Linked DNA regions of Homo sapiens. The protein of the gene in region 2 purifies or fractionates together with the protein of the main gene of each other region. This does not show direct contact. Each region holds a gene or a part of one and is shown on either strand. Other genes may lie near its edges.

The links. Proteins that work in one complex are often made in the same cells at the same time.
Region 1: the proteins of RCC1L (region 2) and TRUB2 purify together in Homo sapiens (affinity purification with mass spectrometry; 3 studies listed by BioGRID and IntAct, with this or other methods). This does not show direct contact.

The regions. Positions count from the first base shown.
Region 1 is NC_000009.12:128,312,441-128,319,476, forward strand, and holds part of TRUB2 (pseudouridylate synthase TRUB2, mitochondrial), read right to left. Parts: intron 4,787-7,036; coding exon 4,712-4,786; intron 4,460-4,711; exon of another isoform or gene 3,386-4,459; coding exon of another isoform or gene 3,382-3,385; exon of another isoform or gene 3,189-3,381; coding exon 3,127-3,188; exon of another isoform or gene 2,984-3,126; intron 1,808-2,983; exon of another isoform or gene 1,658-1,807; intron 1,466-1,657; exon of another isoform or gene 1,450-1,465; coding exon 1,368-1,449; exon of another isoform or gene 1,111-1,367; intron 1-1,110. UniProt on the Homo sapiens protein: Minor enzyme contributing to the isomerization of uridine to pseudouridine (pseudouridylation) of specific mitochondrial mRNAs (mt-mRNAs) such as COXI and COXIII mt-mRNAs.
Region 2 is NC_000007.14:75,056,799-75,063,834, forward strand, and holds part of RCC1L (RCC1-like G exchanging factor-like protein), read right to left. Parts: intron 6,546-7,036; coding exon 6,494-6,545; intron 4,494-6,493; coding exon 4,409-4,493; intron 1,972-4,408; coding exon 1,790-1,971; intron 819-1,789; coding exon 731-818; intron 1-730. UniProt on the Homo sapiens protein: Guanine nucleotide exchange factor (GEF) for mitochondrial dynamin-related GTPase OPA1. Activates OPA1, by exchanging bound GDP for free GTP, and drives OPA1 and MFN1-dependent mitochondrial fusion. Plays an essential role in mitochondrial ribosome biogenesis.

The sequences.
Region 1 (7,036 bases), on a different chromosome or scaffold from region 2:
TTTTTTTTGAGATGGAATCTCGCTCTGTTGCCCAGGCTGGAGTGCAGTGGTGAGATCTCAGCAAACTGCAAACTTCACCTCCTAGGTTCAAACGATTCTCCTGCCTCAGCCTCCCGAGTACCTGGGATTATAGGCGTGCACTACCATGCCCGGCTAATTTTTTGTATTATTATTATTTTTTTTTTTTTTTTTTGAGACGGAGTCTCGCTTTGTTGCCAGGCTGGAGTGCAGTGGTGCAATCTCAGCTCACTGCAACCTCCGCCTCCCAGGTTCAAGCGATTCTCCTGCCTCAGCCTCCTGAGTAGCTGGGACTACAGGTGCCTGCCACCACGCCCGGCTAATTTTTGTATTTTTACTAGAGACGGGTTTTACCATATCAGCCAGGCTGGTCTCAAACTCCTGACCTTGTGATCCACCCATCTCGACCTCCCAAAGTGCTGGGATTACAGGCGTGAGCCACTGCGCCCGGCCTCTTTTTAAAATTTAGAACAGTAGCCAGGCGTGGTGACTCACACCTGTAATCCCAGCACTTTGGGAGGCCGAGGTGGGCAGAATACCTGAGGTCAGGAGTTCCAGACCAGACTGGCCAACAGGGTGAAACCCAATTTCTACTAAAAATACAAAACATTAGCTGGGTGTGGTGGTGTGCACCTGTAATCTCAGCTACTCCGAAGGCTGAGGCAGGAGAATTGCTTGAACCTGGGAGGTGGAGGTTGCAGTAAGCCAAGATCGCGCCACTGCACTCCAGCCTGGGCGACAGAGCGAGACATCGTTTCAAAAAAAAAAAAAGAAAAGAAAAGGAAAGGCTGGGCGCGGTGGCTCATGCCTGTAATCCCAGCACTTTGGGAGGCCAAGGAGGGCGGATCATGAGGTCAGGAGATCCAGACCATCTTGGCTAACATGGTGAAACCCCGTCTCCCATCTCTACTAAAAATACAAAAAAAAAAAAGCCGGGCGTGGTGGCGGGCGCCTGTAGTCCCAGCTACTAGGGAGGCTGAGGCAGGAGAATGGCGTGAACCCGGGAGGTGGTGCTTGCAGCGAGCTGAGATCGTGCCACTGCACTCCAGCCTGGGCGACAGAGCGAGACTCCGTCTCAAAAAAAAAAAAAAAAAAAGAAAAGAAAAGGAAAAGGTCAAAGACTGACGAGATGGAGAGAAACTAGAGTCTTTGGAAGTGACGTTACATTTGAGCTAGGCAAGCAGGGGAGTAGAGGATGCTCCTGGAGCACAGATCCCGTGGCCAAAGCCTCAGCCCAAGCCTAGTGTGTGCAGTGGAACTGAGAAGGGGCCAGCGTGGCCTAGGGCGGGGAGAGGACTCAGGGAAAGCAAATGCGGAGGGAGGCAGCGGCAGCCACTTCCGGTTCTCACCATAGGTTGTCTTCTCTACCAGCCTCCCGTCCTCACGGAAGTCATCTGTAGCTTTGCCCAGGAGGCCACGCACTGTGTAATCCTTCAAGGACAGGGAGGTAAAGATCCGTCAGTGACCCCATTCTAAGCCCTAGTAGCCCCTGCCCCAGAAGCTGGGGGTGGGGGGTCCTCAGGTCTCCCTCAGGAAGCTCATGTGCCCAGCCCCTGCCCAGCTGCTCCACAGCCCCAGGAGGAAGGGCACCAGCTCTGTCATGTGGCCTTCAGCAGCTCTTGCTCTCTTTGTATTCAAGCTCTCCTGTCACCTGGGGACAGTAACAGGGCCAGTCTCACAGTACTGCTGCCTGGATTCAGCAGGACATGGTACCTGGCTCCCAGTCAGCAGGCTTCCTACAAGACTGCTGGCTGGTTTCCATGACAACCAGCACTGGCAGCCTCCAAAGGTACTGACCGCTGACAGCCACCCTGTGGCCACCCCAGGCCTCCATGTTTCTCCTCTCCAACCTAACTCGGCAATTTATCACCCCGAGCCCCTTCTAGCATGCCCTGTAGGCTTCTCTCCACGCCTCTAAATAGAATGAGATTCCATGGCCCAGATCAGGCCCTTGCTCATCCCTGCTTGTAAAAACTCCCCCTCCTCTGAATCTGTGCAGCTAACCCCATCTGCCACAGATAAGTAATGATTGGCTGGATACAGTGACTCACACGTATAATCCCAGCACTTTGGGAGACAGAGGCGGGTGGATCGTCGAGTAGCTGGGAGGACAGGCATGCGCCACCAGCCTGGCTAATTTTTTTGTATTTTTAGTAGAGACAGGTTTTCACCATGTTGTCCAGGCTGGTCTTGAACTCCTGGCCTCAAGTGACCCACCCACCTCAGCCTCCCAAAGTGGCAGGAGCCACTGAGCCCGGCCACAATTTTTAAAATTTTTATAATTTAAAAAAATTTTGTAAATAGAGATGGAGTCTTGCTATGTTGCCCAGACTGGTCTCAAATTCCTGGGCTCAAGCAATCCTCCTGCCTCAGCCTCCCAAAGTACTGGGATTACAGGTATGAGTCACCACACCTGGCCCTCATTCCCATTTTACAGATGAGGAAACTGAGGCACACAGATATTAATTAGGTAATCTACCCAAGGACACACAGCTGTCAGAGTGGTAGAAGCTGGGGTTCAAACTGAAGCCATTTGGCTCCAGAATTTGTGCCCTTAACCACTAAAAACATGGGCCCCATAACGTGGCACCTGCGTACATACTTTGTGGTATCAGACTCCATAGCCCCGACCCCACCTCTGGATGGTAAGCTCCCTGTGGGTAGGATGCTGACATCTACCTCTCAGTCTTGGGACAGAATAGGGAATGGCATCATGATCAAGCTCTGGTGTTGGAGAGACCTAGGTTCAAATCCCAGCTCTTAAAGCCCTAACAACTACATGACCTAGGTAAGTAACATCTCCTCTCTGAGCCTCAGTTCTCTCATCTGTGAAATGTGGCTAACAACAGATTCCACTTTACAGGGAGGCTGTGAGGCTTCCCTAAAGGAATCCACGTACAGTGCTCAGCACAGAGTAGTCGGCATACACTAACACTGGTAGTTATTATTGTTATTATTATTACAGCCCCTGCACAGCACACGATCATCAAAAAAATGCTTGCTTATGGCTTGGGTGTTCCCCCACGGAATCCTCTAAGCTTCAGAATCCTGCTGGTGACCCCCAGGAAAGGACCAAGGGAGAAGCAGGCTGTCCCCAGACCCTCGTACCTTGGTAAGATGAGCATTGTACATATCGGTGAGGAGCCTGCATCCATGTCCCACGCCGAGCACTGAAAAGCAGCCAGCGTCATCTCACACCTGGGACCCCCTTCCCATTCCCCTAAGTATCCCCACCCCTACCCCCACCATCAGAATACTCCCTTTTCTGATGCTGCCAAAGGCAACAAGAAGGCAAAAAGATCTTCTACAGGGGGCAGGTGCACCCCTCTGGGTATATATCACATGCAGATTGCTGGGCCTTACCCATATGCACTGAATCTGACTCATGGTTGGAGGGGGCCTAGGATCCCTGCCAAGCTCTCCACAGGATTCTGACACCTGAGAGGAAGAGATCCCTGGCCTAGTCACACAAACCTGCACTCAAATCAGGGACAGCTCTGAGTATAATCTTTAGCCTCTTTGAGCGTCAAGTTCCCCATCAGTAAAATGGGGGTAAAAATACTGTCTGAAGGCCAGGCGCAGTGGCTCATGCCTGTAATCCCAGAACTTTGGGAGGCCGAGGCAGGTGGATCACCTGAGGTCAGGAGTTTGAGACCAGCTTGGCCAACATGGTGAAACCCCATCTCTACCAAAAAATACAAAATTAACCAGGTGTGGTGCTACACTACACTCCAGCTTGGGCAACAAGAGTGAGACTCCGTCTCACAAAAAAAAAAAAAAAAAATTAGCCAGGCGTGGTGGCGGGCACCTGTAATCCCACCTACTCGGGAGGCTAAGGCAGGGAGAATTGCTTGAACCCAGGAGGCGGAGGTTCCAGTGAGCCGAGATCATGCCATTGCACTCCAGCCTGGGAGACAGAGCAAGACTCTGTCTCAGGAAAAAAAAAAAATACTGATTCCTGTGGGTGCTGTGCAGTCGGCACAGAGGAAGGGCCCAATAAACGGTGGCCACTGTGGTCACTTCCTGCCTTTCTCCCGGTCTGTTTCTCCCTCTGGCTGAGGGACAGAATAACTCTGCATTCACTCGTGGGGAGACAGAACAGGGAGAGGGGGCATGAGATCATGTCTGCCTGCCTGTGCCTCAGGAAGCAAGACAAGGGGACTGTGACTGTCGCGGCTGGAGGATGTGGGCACCACCTGACCCTGGGGACACAGATGGCTCATGACTAGGGCTTTGTGTGTCCAGACCCAGCCACATGCAGGCCCTGGCCATTAGGTCCAGAGTCACGCGCCTGGCTGCCCCATGATGCAATGATGGTTTTCCTTCTCCGGACCAGGGGTATTCACTGGCCATGGGACCCAGAACAAGTCACCTAAATCCTACTTTCTTCTTCCATAAAATCATATAGTATCTACCTAATAAAGTTGTTGTGGTAAATAAATGTGCATAAAGGGCCTCGAACTATGTCATGTGTGGGAATCACTGAATAAAGGTGGGTGACTGTGGTATTAACCTGTGATTACCTCCGTCCCACCTATCCACTCCCCAGCTGATCAGCCTTGGGGCAGGAATCAGGGCAGGAGAGGAGTGGTGGGACGTGGGTGCCAGGTAAGAAGTGGGCTGGGCTCCTGGTAGCTTCAGGATCTTTTCTCAAGCCTTATCACTGTACCCCCAGGCTTCTCACATCACCTACCAAGTACTCCAGAAGCCTGGGCATCCAACCGATGTCCCACGCCAACCTTGAGATGGGCGAATGCTGGTCCACATACTGGAAAGAAACAAACAAGGTCCATTTTCTCAACTAAATGCCACCCCAGGATGGCTTTGGGCTGCATGTTGACCTCGTTCTCAGAATGGGCCTCATGGAGCCCAAACTAGCATCAGGCCAGACTCTCAGGCTTCCCCGTCATGGAATCTGGGACCCTGAACTGTATCCTCAGTGCCCTGGGATCCAAAGGGCAGCCCAAGATGCCTCTTACTCTGCCTATCATCAGTCTCCCAGTGAGAGGCTCTAAGAAGACTGGCGTAACACTGAAGGTCAAGAGTGCGGGGTTCCCTGCCCAGCTCTACTGAGGAAGAGTCCCTGGAGGAAAATGGAGGCTGTGAGCTCCTTAAGGCAGAACCTGGGTGTGTCAACTCACTAGCTGCTCAGGAAAGAACTACTGAAAGAATAAATGCAGGAATGAGCCAGAAGTGTTTACACTTCTACAGATTAAGAGGAATCTAGGGGAAGAGTCCAGGGTAGTTAAGGGCCTATTGAATCCAGGCCATGTTACTAAATGTCAACACTGAGCCTCAGTTTTCTCCCTTGTGAAATGAAAATAGGACCCATCTCACAGCACTGTGGTGATATCAATGAGGATTGTACTTGGGGGAAGCTTAACACAATGCCTAGTACAGAGTGGCGACTCAATACATTATACTTCTTATTGTTACCATATAATAGAGTCATTGAATATCACAAGTCCAACGGGTTTTTGAGGTTTCTGGTCAAACCTCTAGATTCCCTGACACATGCCTTAATCACATCTAGTGATGGGGACACATTACCAGAACCAGTTCCATTGTTGGGCAACTTTATTCAGTAAAAAAATCACTCTTTCGGCTGGGCGCAGTGGCTCACACCTGTAATCCCAGCACTTTGGGAGGCCAAGGTGGGCGGATCACCTGAGGTCAGGAGTTCGAGACCAGCCTGGCCAACATGGTGAAACCCCATCTCTACTAAAAATACAAAAATTAGCTGGGTGTGGTGGCACACACCTGTAATCCCAGCTACTTGGGAGGCTGAGGCAAGAGAATAGCTTGAACCTGGGAGATGGAGGTTGCAGTGAGCTGAGATCACACCACTGCACTCCAGACTCCAGCCTGGGCAACAGAGCAAGACTCTGTCAAATAAATAAATAAATAAACTTATTCTTTCCCAGAAACCCAAAACCCCTACCTTAGGACTTCTACCTAGGGTCTCATTTCTCACCTGGAGTCCCAGAATAGAAAAAGGGTCAGCAAACTACAGTCCACAAGTCAAACCTGAAGACTGAAGACTGTTTTTTTTTTGTGTGTGTGTGTTTGCTTGTTTTGTTTTGTTTTGTTTTGAGATGGAGTCTCACTTTGTCACCCAGGCTGGAGTGCAGTGGCGCCATCTCAACTCACTGCAACCTCCACCTCCCAGATTCAAGCGATTCTCATGCCTCAGCCTCCTGAGTAGCTAGGATTACAGGCACCTGCCTCCATACCTAGCTAATTTTTTGTATTTTTAGTAGAGACGGAGTTTCATCATGTTGGCCAGGCTGGTCTTGAACTCTTGACCTCAAGTGATCCGCCTGCCTCGGCCTCCCAAAGTGCTGGGATTACATGAATGAGCCACCGCATCTGGCTTGTTTTTTGTGGCCTATGAGTTAAGAATGGTTTTTGCATTTTTCAGTGGTTCAAAATAAATCAAGAGACCAGTTGCAAGGGCTCACGCTTATAATCCCAGCACTTTGAGACGCCGAGGCAGGCAGATCACTTGAGCCCAGGAGTTCAATACTAGCATGGGCAACGTGACAAAACCCCATCTCTACAAAAAATACAAAAATTAGCCAGGCATGGCCGGGCGTGGTGGCTCACACCTGTAATCCCAGCACTTTGGGAGGCCGAGGCGGGTGGATCACGAGGTCAGGAGATCGAGACTATCCTGCCTAACATGGTGAAACCCCGTCTCTACTAAAAATACAAAAAATTAGCTGGGCGTGGTGGCGGGCGCCTGTAGTCCCAGCTACTCGGGAGGCTGAGGCAGGAGAATGGCGTGAACCCAGGAGGAGAAGCTTGCAGTGAGCCGAGATCGTGCCACTGCACTCCAGCCTGGGCAACAGAGCATGACTCCGTCTCAAAAAAAAAAAAAAAATTAGCCAGGCATAGTGGCCTGTGCCTGTAGTCCCAGCTACTCGGGAGGCTTAGGTGAGAAGACTGCTTGAACTCAGGAGGCAGAGGTTTCAGTGAGCCGAGATCTCACCACTGCCCTCCAGCCTGGGTGACAGAG
Region 2 (7,036 bases):
AATGCCATCTTCCCATGGCCATAGTCCCTTCCTTTTTTGAAACAGGGTCTCACCGTGTTGCCCAGTGCAGTGGCATGATCATAGCTCACTGCAGCTCGAACTCCTGGGCTCAAGGGACCTTTCTGCCTCAGCCTTCTGAGTAGCTGGGACTACAGGTGTGCACCACCATGCCCAGCTAATTTTTCATTTTTTCTTTTTCTATTGAGACAGAGTCATCCAGGCTGGAGTGCAGTGGCGCAATCTCGGCTCACTACAACCTCTGCCTCCTGGGTCCAAGCAATCCTCCCACCTTAGCCTTCCAAGTACTAGGATTACAAGCATGTACCACCATGTCTGGCTAATTTTTCTATTTTTAGTAGAGTCAGGGTTTCACCACGTTGGCCAGGCTGGTCTTGAACTCCTGACCTCAGGTGATCTGCCTGCCTTGGCCTCCCAAAGTGCTGAGATTACAGGTGTGAGCCACCACACCCAGCCTTCCAGCTAATTTCTCCATTTTTTGGTAGAGACAGGGTCTCGTTATGTTGTCCAGGCTGGTCTGGAACTCCTGGCCTCAAGCAATCCTCCTGCATCAGTTCCCCAAAGTGCTGGGATTACAGATGTGAGCCACCGCGCCCAGCCATGTTACCCTCCTAAGGCTAAGGTCTACGGCCTGCAAATCCAATGGACACTGACCACTCCCTATGTAATCTACCTACAGCTTCCCAATGAGCCACCGGAAAGAAGGTCTCACCGTTTAACACTGCACAGCCCGTGCCACCGCATGCAGCCTGTCGCACCTTCCCCACTCCTGAGAAGTGTAAGCAGCGGGGCACATTCACCTGAACCAAAGAAAGGAGCCACACTGTTAGGAAAGCAAGCCAGTAAGGACCGGGAAGTGTTCTGGTCTTAGGTACAGAGTAGCTGAGTCCTAGTTCATTCATTCACTCCACAGATACTTCCTGAACATCACATGCCAAGCATCATACTAGGTGCTGGGGTAGAATGGGAAGCAAAAGAGGCCCAGTTTCCACCCTCAGAGAGTTCTAGTCTAGTGGACGAGGCAGATGTCAACCAAAATTAACATAAAATGACATTTGTGGCCGGGTGTGGTGGCTCACGCCTGTAATCCTAGCACTCTGGGAGGCGGAGGCAGGTGGATCACTTGAGGTCAGGAGTTCGAGACCAGCCTGGCCAACATGGTGAAACCCTGTCTCTATTAAAAATACAAAAGTTAGCTGGGCGTGGTGGCAAGTGCCTGTAGTCCCAGCTACTCGGGGGGCTGAGCCAGGAGAATTGCTTGTACCCAGGAGGTGGAGGTGGTATTTTTGTATTTTTTTTTAGTAGAGACGGGGTTTCACCAGGTTGGCCAGGCTGGTCTCGAACTCCTGACCTCAGGTGATCTGCCTGCCTTGGCCTCCCAAAGCGCTGGGATTACAGGCGTGAGCCACCACGCCCAGCCTATTTGCTCTTTTTTTTCGAGACAGAGTCTTGCTCTGTCACCCAGGCTGGAATGTGGTGGCACGATCTCAGCTCACTGCAATCTGCAAGCGATTCAATTCTCATGCCTCAGCCTCCCCAGTACCTGGGATTACAGGCATGCACCACCACACCTGGCTAATTTTTGTATTTTTTTGGTAGAGATGGGGTTTTGCCATGTTGCCCAGGCTGGTCCTGAACTCCTGACCTCAAGCCATCTGCCTGTCTCGGCCTTCCAAAGTGCTGGGATTACAGGTGTGAGCCACCACACCCGGCCCCTTAACACTTTAATGTTTCCAAACCTCCCAGCACCACGCTGTCGGCGACTGCATACCTGTGTGGAGTCAGTGACAGAGGCCAGCTGCAGGTACTCCGAGTTTCCCCAACCAAAAAGTCCTCCGTCGGCGGACACGGCCAGGCAGCAATCACCGTAGGTGGCAACTTGGATAACGTTCACTCCCGCCAGGTCTCCACCCAGCTTGGTGGGCGAGCTGGTGATATTGTAGTGACCCAGACCTAACACAGTGGAAAATACAGATTTTTAATTATTCGCTCTTTTAACAAACACATAGGCAGACTTACTATATGCCAAGTGCAGTTTTAAGCACTTAACAAGTATCAGCTCAGAAATCCCAGTCTGGGGCTGGGTGCAGTGGCTCACGCCTGTAATCCCACCACTTTCAGAGGCTGAGATGGGCAGATCACTTGAGGTCAGGAGTTCGAGATCAGCCTGGTCAACATGGCGAAACCCTGTCTCTACTTAAAAAAAAAAAAAAAAATTACAAAAAAATTATTAGGGCATAATGGTACATGCCTGTAATCTCAGCTACTCAGAAGGCTGAGGCACAAGAATCACTTGAACCTAGGAGGTGGAGGTTCCAGTTAAGCCAAGATCACACCACTGCACTCCAGCCTTGGCAAGAATGAGACTCTCAAAAAAAAAAAAAAAAGAAAAAAAAAGAAAAGAAAGAAAGAAAAGAAACCCTAATCTGCTTAGTTGCATGCTCATACAACTTTTTTTTTTTTTTTGAGACGGTCTCACTCTGTTCCTCTGGCTGCAGCGCAGTGGTGCGATCTCGGCTCACTGCAATCTCCAGCTCCTGGGTTCAAGCAGTTCTTTAATTCTTGTGCCTCAGCCTCCCAAGTAGCTGAGATTACAGGCACGCACCACCACAGCCGGCTAATTTTTGTATTTTTCACAGAGATGCGGTTTCGTCATGTTGGCAAGGCTGGCCTCAAAACCCCTGACCTCAGGTGATCCGCCTGCCTCAGCTTCCCAAAGTGCTGGGATTATAGGCGTGAGCCACTGCGCCTGGTCTAAAATTTTTTTATATTGAAATAGAGACAGCATCTCACTATGTTGCCCAGGCTGGTATCGAACTCCTGGGCTCAAGCAATCCTCCTGCCTCAGCCTCCCAAAGTGCTTAGATTACAGGTGTGAGCCACCTGCCTGATCACAACAAGCAATTTCTAATGCACTGGTGGTCTTGCTAAAAGTAAAGAAAATCTCTAAGAGCCCATGCCATCCCCAACACCACTCCCAAAAAACAGGGAACTTAAAATGGCATGGTTAACAATAAGCAGAGAGGCTGGGCACAGTGGGTTCATGCCATTCTCCCGCCTCAGCCTCCTGAGTAGCTGGGACTACAGGCGCCCGCCACCATGCCCAGCCAATTTTTTTTGTATTTTTTAGTAGAGATGGGTTTTACCGTGTCAGCCAGGATGGTCTCGATCTCTTGACCTCGTGATCCACCTGCCTAGGCCTCCCAAAGTGCTGGGATTACAGGCATGAGCCACCGCGCCCGGCCCCGATCTTTTTACTGTCTCCATAGTTTGTCTTTTTCAGAATGCCATATAGCTAGAATCCTATAGTATGTAGCCTTTTCAGATAGGCTTCTTTTAATCAGTATCATGCATTTAAGTTTCCTCCATGCCTTTCCATGGGTTGGCAGCTTATTGCTTTTTAGTGCTAAATAACAAACTTTACATTGTCTGGATGCACCACGGTTGATCCATTCACCTGCTGAGGAATAGGCCCCTTTAAGGACCCTGGATGAAGGCAAGAGTCTACAGTTCAGTGCTCTGCCTTGGGCTGCTGGCCAGGGGTTACCCCCATACCAAGTGCCAATAATGACATTTGCCTTTGGGCAGGTCCTGCCTGTCCTTTTCTCTGCAGTTTGTGTTTGTTTGTTTTTGAGACAGAGTCTTGCTCTGTTGTCCAGGCTGGAGTGCAATGGCGCGATCTTGGCTCACAGCAACCTCCGCCTCCCGGGTTCAAGCCATTCTCCTGCCTCAGCCTTCCTAGTAGCTGGGATTACAGCCGTGTGCCACCACACCCAGCTAATTTTTGTATTTTTAGTAGAGATGGGGTTTCGCCATGGTGGCCAAGCTGGTCTCAAACTCCTGACCTCAAGTGATCCGCCCACCTCGGCCTCCCAAAGTGCTGGGATTACAGGTGTGAGCCACTGCACCCAGCCTTCTCTCAGTTCATTTCTATGGGAGCCAGGGCTGAGGGGAATGGAAGGGATGCAAAAAAAAAGTATTACAGCAGGGCACAGTGGCTCCTGCCTGGAATCCCAGCCCACCAAGAGGCCACAGCAGGCAGACTGCTTAAGGTCAGGAGTTCAAGACCAGCCTGGGCAACATGGCGAAACCCTGTTGTTACAAAAAATTAGCTGGGCTTGGTGGCTCACACCTGTTGTCCCAGCTACTCTGGAGACTGTGGTGGGAGGATCACCTGAGCCTGGGAGTTTGAGACTGCAGTGAGATGTGATCGCGCCACTGCACTCCAGCTTGGGCGATGGAGCCAAGAATAGTGTTCCTCAGAAAGTGATAAGAGGTAAGAGCTGAATTAAGGAAGAAGGGTTCTAGCCCATAAATGCCCTACAGCTCACAGCTCCACATGACACGGGCTGAGAAGTTTCACGACCCCAGTGCATGAAAAGAACTCTACCTGTTTGCCCATCAGCACCCCATCCACAAGAATAGACTTCTCCTTTATCCGTCAGGAACAGACTATGATCCTGACCACAGGCGACCTAGCAGACAAACAGAGGTAAGGGGGATGAGAGGAAATACTTAGAACCCTGGTGTCCTCATCCAAAGAAGGACCAGCACCATCGCCTGCCGCTCCTGGGCACCTGGAGCATGGTCCAGGCAGACTGCTCCATGCTCATCTTACTCCTTCTCAATCTACCAGTCTCCCACTGCATTGAAACTGCTCTTGTTAAAGTAAAATGCAGATCTCCAAAGGGGCAAATCCAAGAGCTCTGCCATCCATCCCACGCCATCTCCAAAGAACCACCCCTTCTCCATAACCCTTCTCCTCCCAGCCCTCTCTTCTACTTTCACAGCTTCCAGCCTTGCTCACACACTCAGCCTCTACTTCAGACCCTTTGCTGTTGGGATCTCTCTCCAGGGTGTGTCTCCTGCCCTCCTCTCTCCTCACTCCTCATGCTACCCTGGGAGATGGGAGCCATTCTCAATGCTTAACTGTGGCCTCTGCACTGTGATCTCTGGTCTCAACAACTCTCCTCAGTTCCAAACTCATTTTTCTAACTGCCTAAAGAAAAGCACCATCTATTGAACAATTTTTACACCAGGCATTGTGTTAAGTCAATAACCAAAACCACCTAGTAAGAAACTGAATCTCAGCTGGGCACAGTGACTCACTCCTGTAATCCCAACACGTTGAGAGGCCAAGGCAGGTGGATCACTTGAGGTCAGGAGTTCAAGACCAGCCTGGCCAACATGGTGAAACCCCATCTCTACTAAAAATACAAAAATTAGCCAGGTATGGTGGCACATGCCTGTAATCCCAGCAACTCGGGAGTCTGAGGCACGAGAATCGCTTGAACCCAGGAGGCAGAGGTTGCTCTGAGCTGAGATTGTGCCACTGCACTAAAATAAAAAAAAAGAAAAAGAAACTATCTTGGAGATGTCTGGTAACTTGCACAAAGTCACTCAGTCTAATAGGTGAAGGAGGCCTGACATGGTGGCTTAACCCATAATCCCAACAGTTTGGGCAGCCAAGGCGGGAGGATGGCTTGAGGCCAAGAGTTTGAGACCAGCCTGGCCAGCACAGTGAGAATCTGTCTCTTTAAAATAATTAGCCGAGGATGGTGATGCACACCTGTAGACCCAGCTACACAGGGGGCTGAGGCAAGATCACTTGAGCCCAAGAGTTCAAGGCTGCAGTGAGCTATGATCGTGCCACTGCATTCCAGCCTAGGCAACAGAATGAGACCCTGCCTCTAAAAAATTTCCAAATAAAACCAAAAAGCCAGCCGTATCACAGTATGATTAGTGCTGTGGTGTTCTAAGCCAGCTGTATTTTGCTCTCCATTTTATTCTCATCCCCAGAATAGTGCCTGGCTCATGGTAGGTACCTATCATAAATATTTCAATGCACATATGCATGAATACAGCAAGTGCTGTGATACTTTTGCCTCAGCCTCCCCAGAGGCTGACGTTACAGGTGTGAGCCACCACATCCGGCCTCAGTTAGCTTTTTAACTTGTTCACTCACTAGAGTGTCATCCCCAAAAATCTGTTTTTTTTTGAGACAGAGTCTTGCTCTGTCATCCAGGCTGGAGTGCAGTGGTGCAATCTCTCAGCTCATTGCAGCCTCCACCTCCCAGGTTCAAGCAATTCCTGTGCCTCAGCCTCCTGAGTAGCTGGGATTACAGGCATGTGCCACCACACCCGGCTAATTTTTGTATTTTTAGTAAAGACGGGGTTTCACCATGTTGGCCAGGGTGGTCTGGAACTCCTGACTTCAGGTGATCCACCTGTCTCGGCCTCCCAAAGTGCTGGCATTACAGGTATAGCCACCACACCCGGCCCCAAAATCTTATTAAACTTTGTATCCCTAGAATCTAGCATAAATCCTGGCCTATAGTAAGTAGGCTACAATTTTTACTAAAATAATTTAATTCAGAAAATCCCCCTAACAAATTTGCCATCACCCTACCCAAATCTCAACTTTTCAAAAGCACCCCAGGAACACAACAAGCAGCTCTCGGCCCATCTCTCTTACCTGGACCACCTGGCCATCGAAGTCCTGCATCCTGTGGACTCTGTGACTTTCACTACAGCCAGGAACAAATTGGGAAGAAGCAAGGGATGCGGTCATGACAAGCACTGTGCAGCCCTTTCCCTGTCACCCCAACTGATGGCCCGTCCCCTCCGCTCACACAGTAACTGTTGGGGTAACTCTCAAGGTCAAATCTTAGGTCGAGTCAGGCCTGGTCATGAAAGTAAAGCCAAACAAAATCCTAGGTGATTTTAACACATGGCCAAAGTTGAGAGTGGTGTTAAGGCCCTCCAACAACATACAAGGAACTAGAGGGAAGTGTTTTTAAACACTAAAATGAAAAGAACTCACCGGGCGCGGTGGGTCACGCCTGTAATTCCAGCACTTTTAGAGGCCGAGGTGGGCGGATCACTTGAGGTCAGGAGTTTGAAACCAGCCTGGCCAACATGAAGAAACCCCATCTCTACTAAAAATACAAAAAATTAGCCAAGTGCGGTGGCGGACGCCTGTAATCCCAGCTATTCGGGAGGCTGATACATGAGAATC